Regions from separate parts of the Homo sapiens genome. Here region 1 is linked to region 2. The links come from fine-mapping of genetic effects on gene expression. Tissue or cell type: whole blood. Region 2 holds a variant in brackets; the other region holds the start of a gene. All regions are shown on one strand. Distances are between the middles of the regions.

Region 1 (8,087 bases), 190 kb before region 2:
ATCCCAGCACTTTGGGAGGCTGAGGCAGGTGGATCATGAGGTCAGGAGTTTGCGACCAGCCTGGCCAATATGGTGAAACCCTGTCTCTACTAGAAATACAAAAATTAGCAGGGCATGGTGGTACATGCCTGTAGGCCCAGCTGCTTAGGAGTCTGAGGCAGGAGAATGGCTTGACCCCAGGAGGTGGAGGTTGCAGTGAGCCGAGATTGTGCCACTGCACTTTAGCCTCGGCGACAGAGCAAGTGTCCACCAAAAAAAAAAAAAAAAATTTTATATAATAGCTATCCTAATGGATATGAAGTGGTATCTCACTGTGGGTTTTTGTTGTGTTTTGTTTTTTATTTCCATAATCAACACTGGAGGTACATTACAGTTTGTCCTCATGAATTCTAGTTGTTCTCATGAGGTACATTTTGTCCTTGCAGTTTTGACTTTGTCTTTGAAATGCCCCATGTCACATCTAGCTATTCTTCTGATTCCCAGGTCTAGAAACTACAGTGACTTCAGACCTGCCCCATGTACAATGGAAAGACTTCCATAACCTTTTTTCTTCTACCTCTAACATTGTCTAAAGTTTAATCTCTATCATACATCGCTTATTCCATCAAACTAATAATGATTTTACTTTGCAGATCAAATCCTAATGATATACAATTGATAAGTGTTTAGGAAGGGAAGTTTTGGGCTATAAATTGTCCCTCTTCATCTCATTTAATGCTTTTTGGCCTACTCTGTTTTGTTTGATATCAGAATCACAGCACCTGCTTTTTCAGAGTTGGGGTTTCCGTTATGCCTACATTTGAAAATCTTTTATTTTAAAGGGTGAACTGAGCCCACTTATAAATTGTTATATCTGATGTGGGTTGGTCTCAGCTGTGTCATATTGTTTCCTATTATAACTACTGCATCACTGTGCCACACTTACTGTGTTTCTTTCATTATTTGGTATGTATTCTTTGCTATTTTTAGAACTTTTGGGGTTTTGGAATAGGGTTTCCAATATTTGGGAATACATATATTTTGTTGTAGTGATTTTTATTTATATTTTTAATATATTACCCTTAATTCCTATATTTTGTTTCTAACCTTTTAACATCTGGTCTGTCTGTTTTATATGGTATCCTTTCACTACTACCTGCTACTGATATTGCAGACAATGATATTATTCTATTTTCCCTTCGCTCTTCCCCTTCTCCTCCAGTTGTCTTTAGTTGCACCTGTTCTAAGTTTATCAGAAAGTATAATGTATATACACTAGTCTTTCACCTTCTGAATATACAAAATGCTCTCCATTAGTCACTCTGCTGGCTTCCTCAGCTGTCTCTTGGTTGGAGGAAGCTCATTCTCTAAGATTCCTCATGAAAGGCCCATGTGAGTCACGTTCTCTGAATTTTTGCATTCAGGTCATATCTGTTTGCCTACAACCTTGACACTTGAGGGCTGGGTATAAAAATCACTGCCTGGTACTTTTTTGTGTGTGTGTCATGGAGTCTCGCTCTGTCACCCAGGCTGGAGTGCAATGGCATGATCTCAGCTCACTGCAACCTCTGCCTCCCGGGTTCAAATGATTCTTCCACCTCAGCCTCTCGAGTAGCTGCGATTACAGGCACCTGCCGGCTAAGTTTCATATTTTTTTTAGTGATGGGGTTTCACCACTTTGGCCAGGCTGGTCTTGAACTCCTGACCTCAGGTGATCCACCCACTCTGGCCTCCCAAAGTGCTGGGATTACAGGCATGAGCCACTATGCCCAGCCTGCCTGGCACTTTTGTTCCTTGTTAATGCTGCTCCACTGTTGCCTGGCTTTGCATGTTGCTGTTCAGAAGTCTGATGCCAGCATAAATTTTTATCTCTATAAGCAATTTGATCTTTTTTGCCTTTAAAATCTAATCGTTTTACTAAAATATATTTAGGAGTTGATAATTCCAGATCATTTCCCAAGGTACATGGAAGTCACTTTTGACATGTACATTTAAATTTTCCCTTATTCCTGGATTATTTTCTGGGGTTATAGTTTTAATATTAATTAGGTTTTATTGTTTAATGTTTGTACTTTAGGGACTCCACTTAACATGTATTTTGGTCTTCCTTTCCTGGCTTTTATTTTAACCTCTTCTCTCTGAACCTTTTTACTTCTATCTTTATATTATTTTCAATTTCTTGATTGTTTTCTTGCCATTCTTCAGTGTCCTTTTACATATTTTCATTTGAATATATTTTCCCTTGGACACCTTGTAATTATTCTTTGTTTCTGGGATAGTTTTTGTCATTACTTTCAATTTCCTTCTTGAATTTGCTCAACCCTTGTTGCATTTCTTCCTAATTTTTGTCTAGTCTGTCTTCAGTTCTTGAAATTTCTTATCCTAGATATGTGTGTGTGTGTGTATGTGTATACAAATACGTGACACTTTGTTCAGTTTGACATGTGGTATTACAATTTTCTTATGCTTCATGGTTTTTATTGTGGGGGTTTTCATCAGCGAAAATGTTATGATTTATTTTTTATCATCAGAAATGTGATTTCTGTTTTCTTTTTGCAGAATCTTTAAATGCAGTTGATTTGATGTTTTTCTGTTACTAGGCATTTTGAGGCAGGGTTCCCGGTTCAAGAGTGTTTTCTTTTATCTGTGTACTGAAATGCAGTTTTTAATAGATAATGTTGGTGTTTGGGGAGGGGACTGGCTGTCTTCTCTTTCATTTCTGCAGGATTTGTAATTTTCCCTTCTGACTTCCTTCTTTCCCTTCATTGTCAGGCCTCTGAAGGACATTATCTTCTTTTCGTATTTATCTGACTTTTTCCCAGAAACAAGGCTCCTTCAAGCCTCTCACCTCTTGTCCCATTTTCTTTCAAATCTCTTCCCTTGATCAATAAGGCACCTGACCTCTGTTCAGTTTTTAGTTCTTGGTGTTGGACTTTCTATTTATAAAGAGGTGACAACCCTGTACTTCACTTAAGTCCTTGGCAATAGTGGAGGGAGCTCAGTTGGAATTTGGTATCTTTTCTTTCTTCTACTTAAGTAATTTAATGTTCAGTTCATGGCATTCTCTCTAAGTAATGCTGAAGGCTTGTTTTTGTTTCGTTGAGGATATGGGTACGGACTTATATCAGGCAGCTGCCATTATCCTCTGACCGAGAAGCTCCTGAAAACATTTAATATATCAAGTTCTAAGTAAAATTTCTGTCTTTCTTAGGAACACTGGAAGCTTTGCGTGTTGCAAGGGCATCACCAAGGTTACATAGATTATGTTACAAGACAGATCGTTTTCTTGTATCGTTAAAGATGCTTAATGTGCTTTTTAAAGAACGCAACGAATGAGAAAGAAAAGATTTTAAACAATATATTATTGCTTTCCTTCTTCCTCATTTTGTGTTTATTGAAAAGAACAACTCTACCATTGATAGCTCTGTCACCCACAGAAAAATGTTCTTTTGAAAATTACCTTCTCAGTTCCTACCAACTCAAAACCTCCACATCTGCCTATATAGATAAATAAAATCGATACCAGCGGGTCAGGAATGTTTTGCTGCAAGATTAGTGAGAAAACTGCAGCAAGCAGCAGCAAAGTCGGGTTCAAGCGGGCGGTTTGCACCAAAAACTCAGGTCAGTTGGCCAATAAGAGCAAGCCCGTTAAGGGTCTGAGGTGGCCCCAAAGACCAAGGCTGAAGAGGTGACAGTCTGGGCAGGAAGCACCGAGGCCACTACCGCCCCCGTAATCGAGAGGCCCCGTGTGCGTGAGCAAGGCTCTTTGCCCACGTGTGCGCGCGCTCCAGTCGGGTCCCGGGGCAGCCACCTGTCACTCACGGGGGAGGGGGCGGCCGGCGGGGGGAGCACGCTGAGGGGCGGGCGGCCGGGGGCGGGGCGGCGCCCAGGCCCTCACGGCGGAGCCCGGCGTGCTGCAGCCATGGAGACGCGGCAGTCCCCTCCCGCGGCCCGCGCCCCGGCCCCCGCAGCCGCCGCCGATTGGTCGCCCTTTGCTCCCTGACCCCCCTCGCCGCCTCCGAGGCCGCTGCTTCCTGCTCTGGTGCCGCGCGGCGCCGCCGGCCCGGGGCGGAGCTCGGGCGCCGAGTGCGCGCCGCCGCCGAGCAGTAGCACCGCGCGGGAGGAGGAGCCGCCGCCGCGCCCTTCCCCTTCCTCCGCTCCTCCCCCGGCCCCCACCGCGCCCGCGGCCGGCCCAGGCAGCACTCGCGAGCAGCGGCGGCCCCGCCGGCGGCCGAGTTGGGAGAATGCGGCGGCGCTCGCGGATGCTGCTCTGCTTCGCCTTCCTGTGGGTGCTGGGCATCGCCTACTACATGTACTCGGGGGGCGGCTCTGCGCTGGCCGGGGGCGCGGGCGGCGGCGCCGGCAGGAAGGTGAGTGGAGCGCCCTGCCGCGGCCGGGCCCCTGCGCCCACCCCCCACCCTGCGCCCCTGTCCCCTGCCCTCTCCGCGCCGCCCCTGCGCTCCTCCGCCCGGACCTCCGCTCGCGTCGCCCGCCCTCGTCCCGGGCCTCCGCGCCGAGTGCCCAGGGCAGGGGTGCACCCGGCCCCTCTGCGCACGCCGGGCTCCGAAAGGGCGGCCCCCGCAGCCTTTCTCTGCCCCCTCTCGTGGACGTCGCCCCTCTCTCTGCTCGTCGTAATTCGAGTCTTGTCCGGCCGCCGGGAGCCCCATCCCCTGCGGTTGGAAGTTTAGGGATGGGGGTGTTGGGAAACACAAAGGGGGTGGGGAGGAGAGGAGAGAGAGGCGACCGCTTTTCCAACGCGTCATGTACAGCAGGAGAGAGGAGTCCAAGTTTCTTTTCAGCCCTTTGATACCAGCGGCTGCAAATCCTCGTCCCTTTCCCCCTGTCACTCCGCGGGGCGTGGGTTCCGTGTTTCTGCCACCTTCTTTGCCCTTTACCTTTGGGGGGCAGGGGCGGCCGCTCCCGTGCCAAGTAAAGCCCCAGGGCCCGTGCGAGCCAGGGGCCAGTGCGCCCCTGCGCCCCGAGCGAGGCCAGTCCCGGCCGTTCCCTTGCGGCCCCAGCGTTACCCTCTGCCCAACCCGGCCCCCGGCCCTCCCGCGCGAGCCGGACGTGGCCTCCTGCGCTTGCATTTTCCATCCCCACTCCCCGCTTCAGGGAGAATCCCTCTTCTGTGGCTGTGTTTTTAACATGCTCCAGGGGCCGAGTGATCTGGCTGTGGGGACCGTGTGAGCCGCTCTGCGGTTCCGCGTCCTCGTGCCGCCGCTCCGGACGGCCGGGCCCTGGGCATTCGGGAGGATGGTGAGCGCCGAGAGGAGCCGGGACAGCGCGGTCCTGCGGCCGAGCGCCGGCCGGGAGAGCAGGGCGTCGGGCTGTGTGCTGGAGCATGCCGGCAGGGGACGTTTGTAGTGTTTTACTGGCTCCTCGGCTTTGAAAGCAGCGTTATCTTTTCCGAATTCCTGTAACCCTCGTTACTGTGACATTTAGTGTCACCGCAAACCCAGAAAATTCTGAGTTAATGGAGATGGACTACGGGTGGTTGGGTTGGAACAAGAGAGTGGTATCCTGAAACAAGCCAGAGGGAACTAACTAGATGAACAGACTTCAGTTCTGAAGTCAGACCCCTAAATGTCCACGCCGGGGTTTGGCTGCTTCAGAGGTTTTTTCTTTGCTTCATTCATTCATTCATAGCCGAAGATGTTAGGTGGAATGGGTGCCTTATGTGGTTTCTGGTAAATTACGTGGATTTGTTTTATCTAGAAGGGCAGAAATAAAGCCCTCTTTCCACGTGCTGAATCGGCCTAGCTTCTGAGCTGACATTGTACTCTTAGCGTTGTTTTTGTAAAAAATGGTATAGGTAGTATATGTACGCGAAGACTTGGTTTATTCTTGAACAGCAAAGAGCATGCAGGCAGCAAAAGCCGTGCAGTCCATTCAGAGATATAATCGTGTAAAACTGGAATGATTTTTAAAACTTTGCTTCCCGGTAAACTGTGCCTTGGCCACTCTGCATAGCCTGGTGTGCTGGTGAGACCTGGCAAAGCTTTCTGCCTTTCATGCAAAGAAAACCAAACACATAAGCCACCCTTGGCGTTTCTCTTTCCTTAGTCTGCCACTTTCATTAGTACACGTGATTAGAAAGAGCAAGCGTGCTCGTTCGCCTCCCGGAGGCTGATTCCTCACTCTGGTGGGCTTCAGTTCCTGGATGGTGTGAGGGGTCTTCCATGCAGAAGTCTTCAGACACTCCTGAAGTGTGTGATTCTTAGTTTGTTTTTTTTTGTTTTGTTTTGTTTTGTTTTGTTTTTTTTAAAGAATTCCTGGTGGCAATATAGACAGGTACGGAGACCAGGTAGAAAAAGTGGGGGAAATGAACAATTAATTACACATGGATTGGTGATTTGGGATTCTATTCTTTCTGTCAACGAACCATAAAATTTAATGCTACCCCTTAGGATGCTTTAGTGATTTGTCGGTTGAGGAAGAGGTGTGTAAATGCAATAGCTTTTGAAATTGCAGTGGAAGACTCATTAACTTCGTGTGGTGGACCCAGGGTTAAAGAGAAGCCTTAAGATGGTTTCTGAAGGAGGTAAATAGAGCCCTGCTGTCACGAATGCCTGATGTATAGGAAAATCGTGTAGTCTTCTTTCTTCCCCAATTGTTTCCATGGATTTAGACACTAGAAGTGTCTCTAAATTTATTTCATTCTCATACCAAAAAAAAAATGTGGTTTGTTTGGCTTGTAAAGTATGGACATAAAAAAAGATAGCGGGCCATGCACAGAAAGGCAGAATTTAAAAGCTAGCTATAGTTTTTTTAGAGATAAGTGGACCTATATTTTTTCTCTTGCCTCATACTGTTCAAGTCAGGGCTTTTATTCCATATTTAGCCAGTTTCTGCACATCCTGACGTTTTTCATAGGGTACTAGGCTGCAGTATTGGGCTTTAGGGATCGTCTGAGGGGAGTCCAACTAGGATTTCTGCTGCTTCAGCAGCCCAGCCCAGGCTTGTCATTGTGTGCCCTGCCTGTTAAGTAACTCATCACAGAACTGTTATTCTCCACTTGGCAAAACCCAGAGAGCCAGCTCACCTCAGATTGCAGGTTTAGTAAACTAAGCAGGAGGGAGTGCTGAAGACCAATCTCAGGCACTGCCGCACAACTCGGGACTCAACACCCAGGCTCAGGACATGTATGTTAAAGCAGTTTATTCAAAATATTGTTTAAAATTATGTTTCATTTACATTTGTGTCCATACCCTTTCCCCCCATATTTTGCTCTTTCCCCCTAAATTGATGATTTGCACTTCAAGCGTGCCTTTCCTTTGAGCTTCTTAAATGCTTTAAAATTTTAACCATGTTAAGTCTCCCCTGGGCTTTGGTACGTTGGCAGTGGATGGAGCCGCAGAAGAGAGGAAGGGATTTCTCTGGAAATGAAGCTGCCTGTGGGTGAAGTGTGGCTGTTTAGGGTGGAAAGGGAAGGGTTTTCTCTCTGCTGTAAGAGTGTGTGGAGCCTGAGACCCCTTGCCTGTGTGCCTGCATGCTGGGAGGTAAGGGACGGTGTTAGTTGAGGGACATGATCCGGAGCCCTGGGAGCCTGTCCACTTTGCACAGTAGCATCACCCTTATTCCCTGAGCTGGCACGAGTCCTGTGGCCCTTGCCCGAGAGTCCAAGGGTGGGGGACTTTGGGTGGGATCTTCTAGGAATCATGCGGGGAGGCGGGCAGGTTATTTCTTGGAACAGTGAAGGACCTTGCCGGGCTAGACCATGGTACACATGGAGGGGAACGTTAGGGTGTAAAGTTGGAGAAATTCAGAACTAAATTGTAACGGGCTTCAAATGCCAAGCTGAACCATTTGGGAACTAGTAATGTTTTTGAGCTAGTAGTAGACATTAAAGGGAAATGGCACAAATCCACTTATTGGCATTGAGTGAGACCTAGCTGTTTACCTCTTTGTGCTTAGTGACCTTCACTGATGCATTGAACCTCTCTGACCCTCAGTTTCCTCATCTTTGCAGTGGGAGTAATCATTCTTACCTCATGGCCTTGTTCGGAGAGTTAAATACTGTTAGTGGGTGCTGAATAACTGCTATCTCTAAAAGAGGAAAATGAAAAAATAAAAGCCTAAATATCCCCTTGAAAGTGTAGTGAACCAGG
Region 2 (8,103 bases):
CCCCTCGTCTCAGCTCAAAGATGAGCACCTTCCACCAGGTCATAGAATAAAATCCTTGGAGATTTCTTTTCCACAGTTGAAGTCTCACATAGGTTTATAAGGCCTATCTGCTAGGTCTGTGCATTCCTGTATGTTGATAATGTAGAGCGTTTCTGTAGCAGAGCAGGATCTCCGAGCTGACCCCAGGCCCAGGAAAAGGGGCTTGGTGGGCAGCAGGAGGCTTACTGCTGCTACTGCCCAGCAGGCCTTTGCTCTCCTGCAGAGGAAGGAGCCCATGCTCATGAAGCCCATGCTTTTAAGATTCCCAGGCCGGGCGGTGGGCTTTCTGGTTGAGAGTCAGGATGCCTTCTCTAGCTGGGGAGAGAAGGGGGCCACCTCTTCCAAGTTGGCACACGGTTAAGTGAGATAGCATTCACAGAGTACTTAGCGCTGAAATATATTTGCTGACATTTAGCCAACATCTGCAGTGTGCCATAGACCTTCCCAGCACTTTACACTGAATTCGCACAGCATCGCTTCTGGGAACAAAGTAGGGAGCTCAGTGTACATCTGTTGTCAACCCCTTCCTGGGATGATGAAGTGAGGAGCATGGTGGGTTCCCTTGTAGGAGGTGGAGTCTCATCTATGATAGTGATAATGAGAGCTGGTGCTGTGGAGCATTTCCTAAGCGTGCTCAGGGCTTTATGCCCATGATTTTTTGCAATCCTCGTAGCTACCCTATAAGGAAACTGACACACAGAAAGGCCGAGTTCTTTGCCTATGGCAGCATGTCAGTGAGTAGTGATCCAGCCCCAGCAGTCGCTCCCACATAGGGGAGGCTCAGTCCAGCCCCTGGCACTGTGGGAACATCCAGGCAGGGACAGTGGGGGAGGCATTTGAAGGCAGCAGTGGTGAAGCAGAGAGAGTGGCATGCTGGGCACTGAGCAGAAAACAGTGGCAGTGTGGCTGTTCTGAAGATCAGCTTATTGTTAGGGAATCAAGGCTTGGCCTTGGCGCAAGGGTGCTGGCAATCTAACCTTGACTTTGCCCTCTCCTCCCTCCCCCCTCTTCTTTCTGCCTCTTTAGAACCCCCATGATTGCTGGTGGGCTGTTTGTGATGGATAAGTTCTATTTTGAAGAACTGGGGAAGTACGACATGATGATGGATGTGTGGGGAGGAGAGAACCTAGGTATGTACAAGCCTCAAATCTCAGGACAGAGAAGTGCCTCAGCTCTGCAAAAGGCAGGGTGCCAATTGGAAAAAAAATTTAAAAGGCTTCAGAGTGACCATTCACTGGGCTTAATCGATCCTTGCAAACACATATGTAACACCCCTTTTGCTCTTGAAAGTCTCATGAGTTGGGCATTAAAATGTGCCTCCCTAGGTTAGAGTGGAGGATGCCAGAATACGGATAAAGTCTTTGAAGGGAAATGCAAACTCTTTCAAGGCGTCTGAACCCAAGTGTTTGGAATGTTGCAGGCTTGCAAAAACAGAGGGAAACAGTCCAGGAGCTCAGATTCATGCTGAGTGGTGGAGAGTGGAAAATGAACCCCGGCGAGGCTGGTGGGATTGATTGAATTGAAATCATGAAAATCCGATGGGGCAGGGAGGCCTTGGCACTTAATCCCTTCTCGACTACCTTTGCGAATGGTTCTCATTTGTTTTTCTGTTTGTTTGTTTTTTTGTTTTTAAATACCCCATGCAAATTATTTTTACCCAGGTTTAGGCACAGCAAAATTTTGCACATTGTGGTCTATATTGGTAGCCTTATATTTACTGCATAAAAGATGAAAAGATGTGTTTTGTTTGTTTAGGGTTTGGAGTGGGGGAGATCTTTTTTGCTTGTTTCAATTAAAGCCTTTTGTTTCAAATGCTTGACATTCTGAGCGAATTCTCCTGGGCTGCTGAGTGTTGTTAACTTACATTCGTCCTTGGGTGAGTGTACCCTGGAGGACAGGGGAGAAGGAAAGGGGAAAATGAGGCCACTCATTTTTAATAGTTTTGAGACTTTGAAAGTTTTTGTTACTTTAAAAGAAAAGACTAGCCTAGCCTATTATTTTTCCATTGTTTTATGATGTTGAAGTCAGTGATACCATCTCATCTTTGAGGATTTCTCTGCCTTGGTTTGATGTTGAAAGCTTCTTTAGGCTCGATTACTATACTGCACGGGTGGAGAGACCGTGAGTCAAACTCCTTTTGGGTTGTTTTAAAAAAATGATACATTAACCTCTAGGGAAAGCTTGGATTGAAGTCACTTGAGTACAAAAGGCTTCAGAATTGTTAACCCTCTAAAGAGAGTTCTGTCACCCTGTTCCATGGGTATCCCCTAATGGTTTAGTGGAAATCCAGCAGGCCAGGGTCGCCCAGTAGGGCAGCGTATCGTGTAGGTGGCCATTTCTCAAAAACAGTGTGGTTTTCAGAAGTTTGCATACTATTAGCTGAAATGAGACATCAGCCAGCATTTTGTGTCATCGTGTAGGAAGAGTGTTGATTTACATATCTAAGGAGGCATTCACCCAGAGACTGGGGGGTAGATTTGTTGTAAGGAGCTGCTTTATTGTGGTTTGGTGTTTGTATTTATTATGTAGCTGTGCTAGAAGGTTCTAGGGTCTGAGCGGTTCAGGTTGGGGTGAAGATGAACCCTGCAAGCAGGAGCACATCTCTGCCCAGGAAGGCTGGGGCATCTGTCCCTCCGTGAGGGGCTCTCCTGGGTTATGCCAAGGACTTGGACTCCCAGTGAGGTTTGGAGGGCTCAAGAGCTTCACGTGAGAAGGCCATGCCGTGAGCCTTTCTCCTTAGCACTGCTCTAGCTTCTGCTTCTGGGGGCCGTGCACACTACTAGCCATTGCCAACCTGAGGGGCCTCTGTGGGTGTGCATTGGGAGAGGTGTATGGTGCAGAGAGGCCCGAGTAAGATCCAAAACCACCTCCTCAACGTGTGCCCCGCTGGAATGACCAGAGCTTCCCATTTTCCTAATCATGTAAGTCCTTATGTCATTTAAGCAATTAAAATGGAGGACCAAGAACCTAACCCTTAACTCTAACAATGGGGGTAAGGCTCCTTGGGGGCATCATCTGTGTTTCTCTACATCCCTGTCATGCAAGGATGATGCTAAGTACTTCCAGGGAATCATCTGTTTGTGCTTTCTTAACGGAGTGTGGTCTGCAGAGGTCATGACACCTTGCCCAGGGTCTCAGAACCAAGATGTAAACACTAACTGCCTAATTAAAAAGCCATTGAGTTTTACTGAGTAATTATCCTCAAAGTTATAGGGTTCAAATGAAATCAACGCTGAAGATACTGTAGTTATACTTAGCCTTGAAAATCTCCCACAAAAGCCCTGGAAGGATCCCTTGTTGGCTTAACAGATTCCCCATAGAGAAGCCAAGGGGATTTCCTAGCCCCTAATTCTAAATCTTGTGGTGAGGCAAATGGATATTTAAATTTTATTTTCTGAAATAGAGACAACTTCTTTTTTTTTTTTTTTTTTTTTTGAGATGGAGTCTCGCTCTGTCACCAGGCTGGAGTCCAGTGGCACATTCTTGGCTCACCGCAACGTTCGCCTCCCGGGTTCAAGTGATTCTCCTGCCTCAGCCTCCCAAGTAACTGGGATTACAGGCATGTGCCACCGTGCCCGGCTAATTTTTTGTATTTTTAGTAGAGACAGGGTTTCTCCATGTTGGTCAGGCTGGTCTCAAACTCCCAACCTCAGGTGATCCGCCTGCCTCGGCCTCCCAAAGTGTTGGGATTACAGGCATGAGCCACTGCGCCCAGCCGACAACTTCTTAGGTTGTGTTGGGAACTGTAAAAAGTAAAGTCGGAAACTTTCACTGCTTATGCTTATGTGATTGTAACCATACATTTTCTATTAGTACAAGAGAGTTGCTTATTAAAGCCCCGTAACAGCTGCATGGATCACCCATTCCTAGTGAGTGAGGCATTAGTTTGCTGGACCCAAGTAGAAACTCATGGTGTTCTGACCCCTGTGTTGTATTTCCTGCCATGTGCCTGGCATTCTGGGCACCTGTTGCCATAACTAGGTTGACTGCCTGCAGGATTTGCCATCAACTCACTGTATGGTCTGTGATGGACCCACCCTATTTCTGATCAATCTGCATTGGTGACAGTGACTGCACACTCTGTAGATACTATATGTGTATATTTTTACTTCTTTTAATTTGTTAATTGACAGATAATAATTGTGCATATTCATGGGATACATAGTGATGTTTTTAATACATATAATGTATGGTGATCAGATCAAGGAAATTAGCATATCCATCATCTCAAACATGTAGCATGTTTTTGTGTTGGGAACATTCAGTATCCTCCTCCTGGTTATTTGAAACTCTGTATATATTATGGGTCCCTAGAGTCACCCTACCGGGCTGTAGAACACAAGCAAGATCCCTCTTCTCTAGCTATAATTTTGTATCCTTGAAAAAATCCCTACTCCTTCCTTCCCAGCCTTTACTATCCTCCGTTATACTTTTTACTTCTATGAGATCAGTGTTTTTTAGCTTCCATGTATGGGTGAAAACATGGTATTCAACTTTCTGTTCTTACTTCACTTAATTTCCTGGGAATACTATCCAGCCAGAAAAAAAAAATGAAGTCCTGTCATTCACAGTAACTGTTGATTTTTGTCCTGCCTCCCTAACATGTTCTTAGGGATCTTAGATAATACAGAGGAAAATTCCCTTTTGTATTATACAAACCTGGTAAAGAAAAACTGTTTTTTGCCTTTCAGAAAATTCTTAGTTTTTTTGTTGAATCTGTTTCTTGCATTCAGTCGGACCCCTGACTCAGACTCCAGTCACTCACCTAGTCAGTGGTGATAAGGGCAGGTACCTGGTTGGAAGGTACCTGTGTGTCACAAAAGGCACACCAGTCAGTCTAAGCTTCGACTGAGTTCCAATGCTCAGGGCAGTCTGTGTGTTTAAGTAGGTGTGGGTAGTGCCTAGACCTACACATCTCATTC[C/T]TCCTGCCGGTCAGTTCTGTGTTGAAGCAAGTCAACAGCAGCCTTCCCCAGGGAGCATTCCTACCTGGGCCAGCTGGTTACTGACTGGTCCAAGCCTGTGAGCAGCGTGCAGATATCAATCAGTTACTTGACTGTCCTTGGTCACTACCATAGTCCATAAGGCAGTCCCTAAGTCCATAGTCCGTAAGTCCAAACTCTGCCTGGAGACTTGAGCCTGCTAATACACAGGGACTTGTATTTAATAAACTTTTCCATTTGAGGGAAGGGATTATTTTTCCCTGGATGAGAAAAGCCAAGATGCATCCTGGGGTTCAGTCTGTTAAAAATAAGTTTTAGAGAAAGATGGCATATATGGTTGTCTAGAATATGTAACAATAAAGCTTAATTGTACATATTTATATACCTTCAGTGTTGCCTTTTCCCACGGTGTTGATACGAAGCAAGTGCAAATGATCGTGAGCCAGCTAGTGAAGAATTCAGCACAAGTGTTTTGTCACTCAGTAGTTACGATGATACTGGGGTATACATGATCTTATGCCAAGAGGCCTTTATATTTACAGTAGACCAAGAAGCATTCTTGTCTCAAGGTGTCTACTCCACATCTGAAAAATATTTCCCCGTGAACATTTTTTCTTGATTGTATTGTGGTCCAGAGATCCAAGTGTGTCAAATGTCTCTCCTTTAGAGAGTTCTGCATCAGGTTCTGGAAGGAGGAAGGTCCTTATCAGATCTCCTTCAGCAGCAGAGGGCATGGGAGCCCCATGATGGGATGGTCAGGGGGCCTCTGTACCTGCTTGGTGTGTCTGCTGTTGCAGAGGTGCGTCCCAGGCTCTGTCAGTCACCTGTGTCTTGTTCATCGTCTCAGAGATCTCGTTCCGCGTGTGGCAGTGTGGTGGCAGCCTGGAGATCATCCCGTGCAGCCGTGTGGGACACGTGTTCCGGAAGCAGCACCCCTACACGTTCCCGGGTGGCAGTGGCACTGTCTTTGCCCGGTAAGTAGTGAAAGGCTGAGCGGGGTCCAAAACATTGATGACTACCCTGAAAGCAGGACCTGACCTTGGGCTGTTTGAGGACAGATGTCCTTCAGTGGGTGTGGTGCATTTATACAATGGAATACCACTTAGCAATTGAAAGGCGCATTCCACGGATGCAGGATACAACCTGGGCGCCTTTCCAGGGCATGATGCTGAGTGAGAGAAGCAGTTACATACATGATTCCACTCATGTCACAGCCTCATAAAAACACAGCTTTAGGGATGGGGCCAGACCAGTGGTGGCCAGGAGCTGTGATGGCAGGAAAGCGGGGAGTGTGACTGCAGAGGGGCAGCACCAGGGATGTTTGGAGGAGGGACGGAGCTGTTCTGTCTCCTGGTTGTGGTGGTAGTTGGACAAATCTTCATGAGTGTGAAGGCTCTTAGAACTGTACACCACCCCCCAAAATGTTATGGGAAAATTTTTTAAAGAAGAAAGTTCATTTTATAACCATTCAAGGTGCAATTAAAAGCAACATTGTCTTAGTCCATTTTATGCGTCTCTAACCAAATACCACAGACTGGGTAATTTAAAATGAACAGAAATTTATCTACTCATAGTTCTGGAGGCTGAGAAGTCCAAGATCAAGGTGCTGGTGTCTGGCGAGGGTCTTCTTGATGTGTCATCACATGGTGGGAGGGCAAAGAGAGGGCAGGAAAGAGCAAGAGGGGGCCAAATTCTCCCTTTTATAATAGCATCAATCCCCCCCATGAGAGTGGAGCCCTCATGGCATAGTCACTTCTTAAAGGTCACCTCTTAAAGGCCTCACCTCGGCTGGGCATGGTGGCTCATGTCTGTAATCCCAGCGTTGCGGGAGGCCGAGATGGGCAGATCACCTGAGTTTGGGCAGATCAGGAGTTTGAGACCAGCCTGGCCAACATGGAAACCGCATCTCTACTAAAAATACAAAAATTAACCGGGCATAGTGGCAGGCGCCTATAATCCCAGCTACTCGGGAGGCTGAGGCAGGAAAATCGCTTGAACTCGGGAGGTGGAGTTTGCAGTGGGCCAAGATCGTGCCTCTGCACTCCAACCTGGGCAACAGAGCGAGACTCTGTCTCAAAAAAAAAAAAAAAAGCCTCACCTCTTAATACTGTTATAATGGCAATTAAAGTTTAACATGAGTTTTGGAGGGAACAAACATTCAAACCATAGCAAATATTAAAGTCAAGCTGTACTAATTGTGTATACCACAAGACATCGTGACACAGAGTCACGATTCTTGATGGAGAGTAGATATATTTTAGTAAACATGAAGATGCCAACGGAAGGGCTTTCCGAAAGTAAAATAGCAAATAGCCGTTCTATCAAGCCAAGTGTCCTTCTAGGGAATTCTCTTACATGCTAAAGATAGAACAGCGTACAAGCCAGATCTCAGGGAGATTGCCTTCTCTTGAGTGTAGACAGCAAAACACACAGCTAAATAAGGTATTTTCAAATAGTAATCAATGCTGTGAAGAAGGTAAGATGCAGTCATGTGGTCGGGCATGATTAGGACAAGCAGTAGGAGAGGTTTTCATGGTCAAGAGAACCTTTGAGGAGGTGTTATGTGAGTTCAGACTTGAAAGGTGGGAGGAGGTCCCTCTGGGACCCCGAGGAATCAGACTACCTGCAGGAGGAGCAGATCCAGGCTGCTGAGGTGCGTTTGGCATATCAGCCAAATGGAAGCCAAGGGTAGCTGGAACCTAGAGAGTAAGGGGACAGTGCACAGGGGCAGAAGAGCTAGACAGGCCCGGGCCATGCACCTTTGCAGGTCATGGGAAACGTTGGATGTTATTTGATTCTGAAGGAAAACACTGGGGCTTTTCAGCAGTGCCTGATGTCTGTTTTATGCTTTGGAAAGGTCCGTATGGTTGCTGGGCAGAGGGTGGCCAGGTGGTGACCCTATGGTGAAACAATGGTACGAGTGCCCCCTCCACTCTTGGAGCCAGAAGCAAGGGTCCTGTGAGCACTGTTGCAGTAGCCCAGGCCAGAGATGTGATACAGTCATGCACCTGTAACAGCGTTTCGGTCGGTGACAGTAGTCCCATAAGATTATAATACCGTGTGTTTACTCTACCTTTTCTTTGTTTAGATACACAAATACTTACCATTGTGTTACAGTTTCCTC

Evidence for each region. PIP is the estimated chance that this variant, and not a neighbour inherited with it, causes the effect.
Region 1: it holds the start of GALNT2, and the variant in region 2 is fine-mapped to the expression of GALNT2 in whole blood (TOPMed, PIP above 0.99).

The regions. Positions count from the first base shown.
Region 1 is chr1:230,063,058-230,071,144 of GRCh38, forward strand. GALNT2 (polypeptide N-acetylgalactosaminyltransferase 2) reads left to right here and starts at 4,181. Exons shown (of 16, transcript NM_004481.5): 1 at 4,181-4,349. The coding sequence starts at 4,224. RefSeq lists enhancers at 3,397-3,556, 5,911-5,990 and silencers at 3,687-4,496, 4,937-4,996.
Region 2 is chr1:230,249,392-230,257,494 of GRCh38, forward strand. It overlaps GALNT2 (polypeptide N-acetylgalactosaminyltransferase 2), which reads left to right. Exons shown (of 16, transcript NM_004481.5): 10 at 1,066-1,169; 11 at 5,827-5,953. Among named protein-coding and RNA genes, the nearest start is that of PGBD5, 170 kb to the right of the region's middle. RefSeq lists enhancers at 1,952-2,613, 2,614-3,274, 5,383-5,883, 5,884-6,384. The variant C/T (reference allele first, on the strand shown) is at 4,962.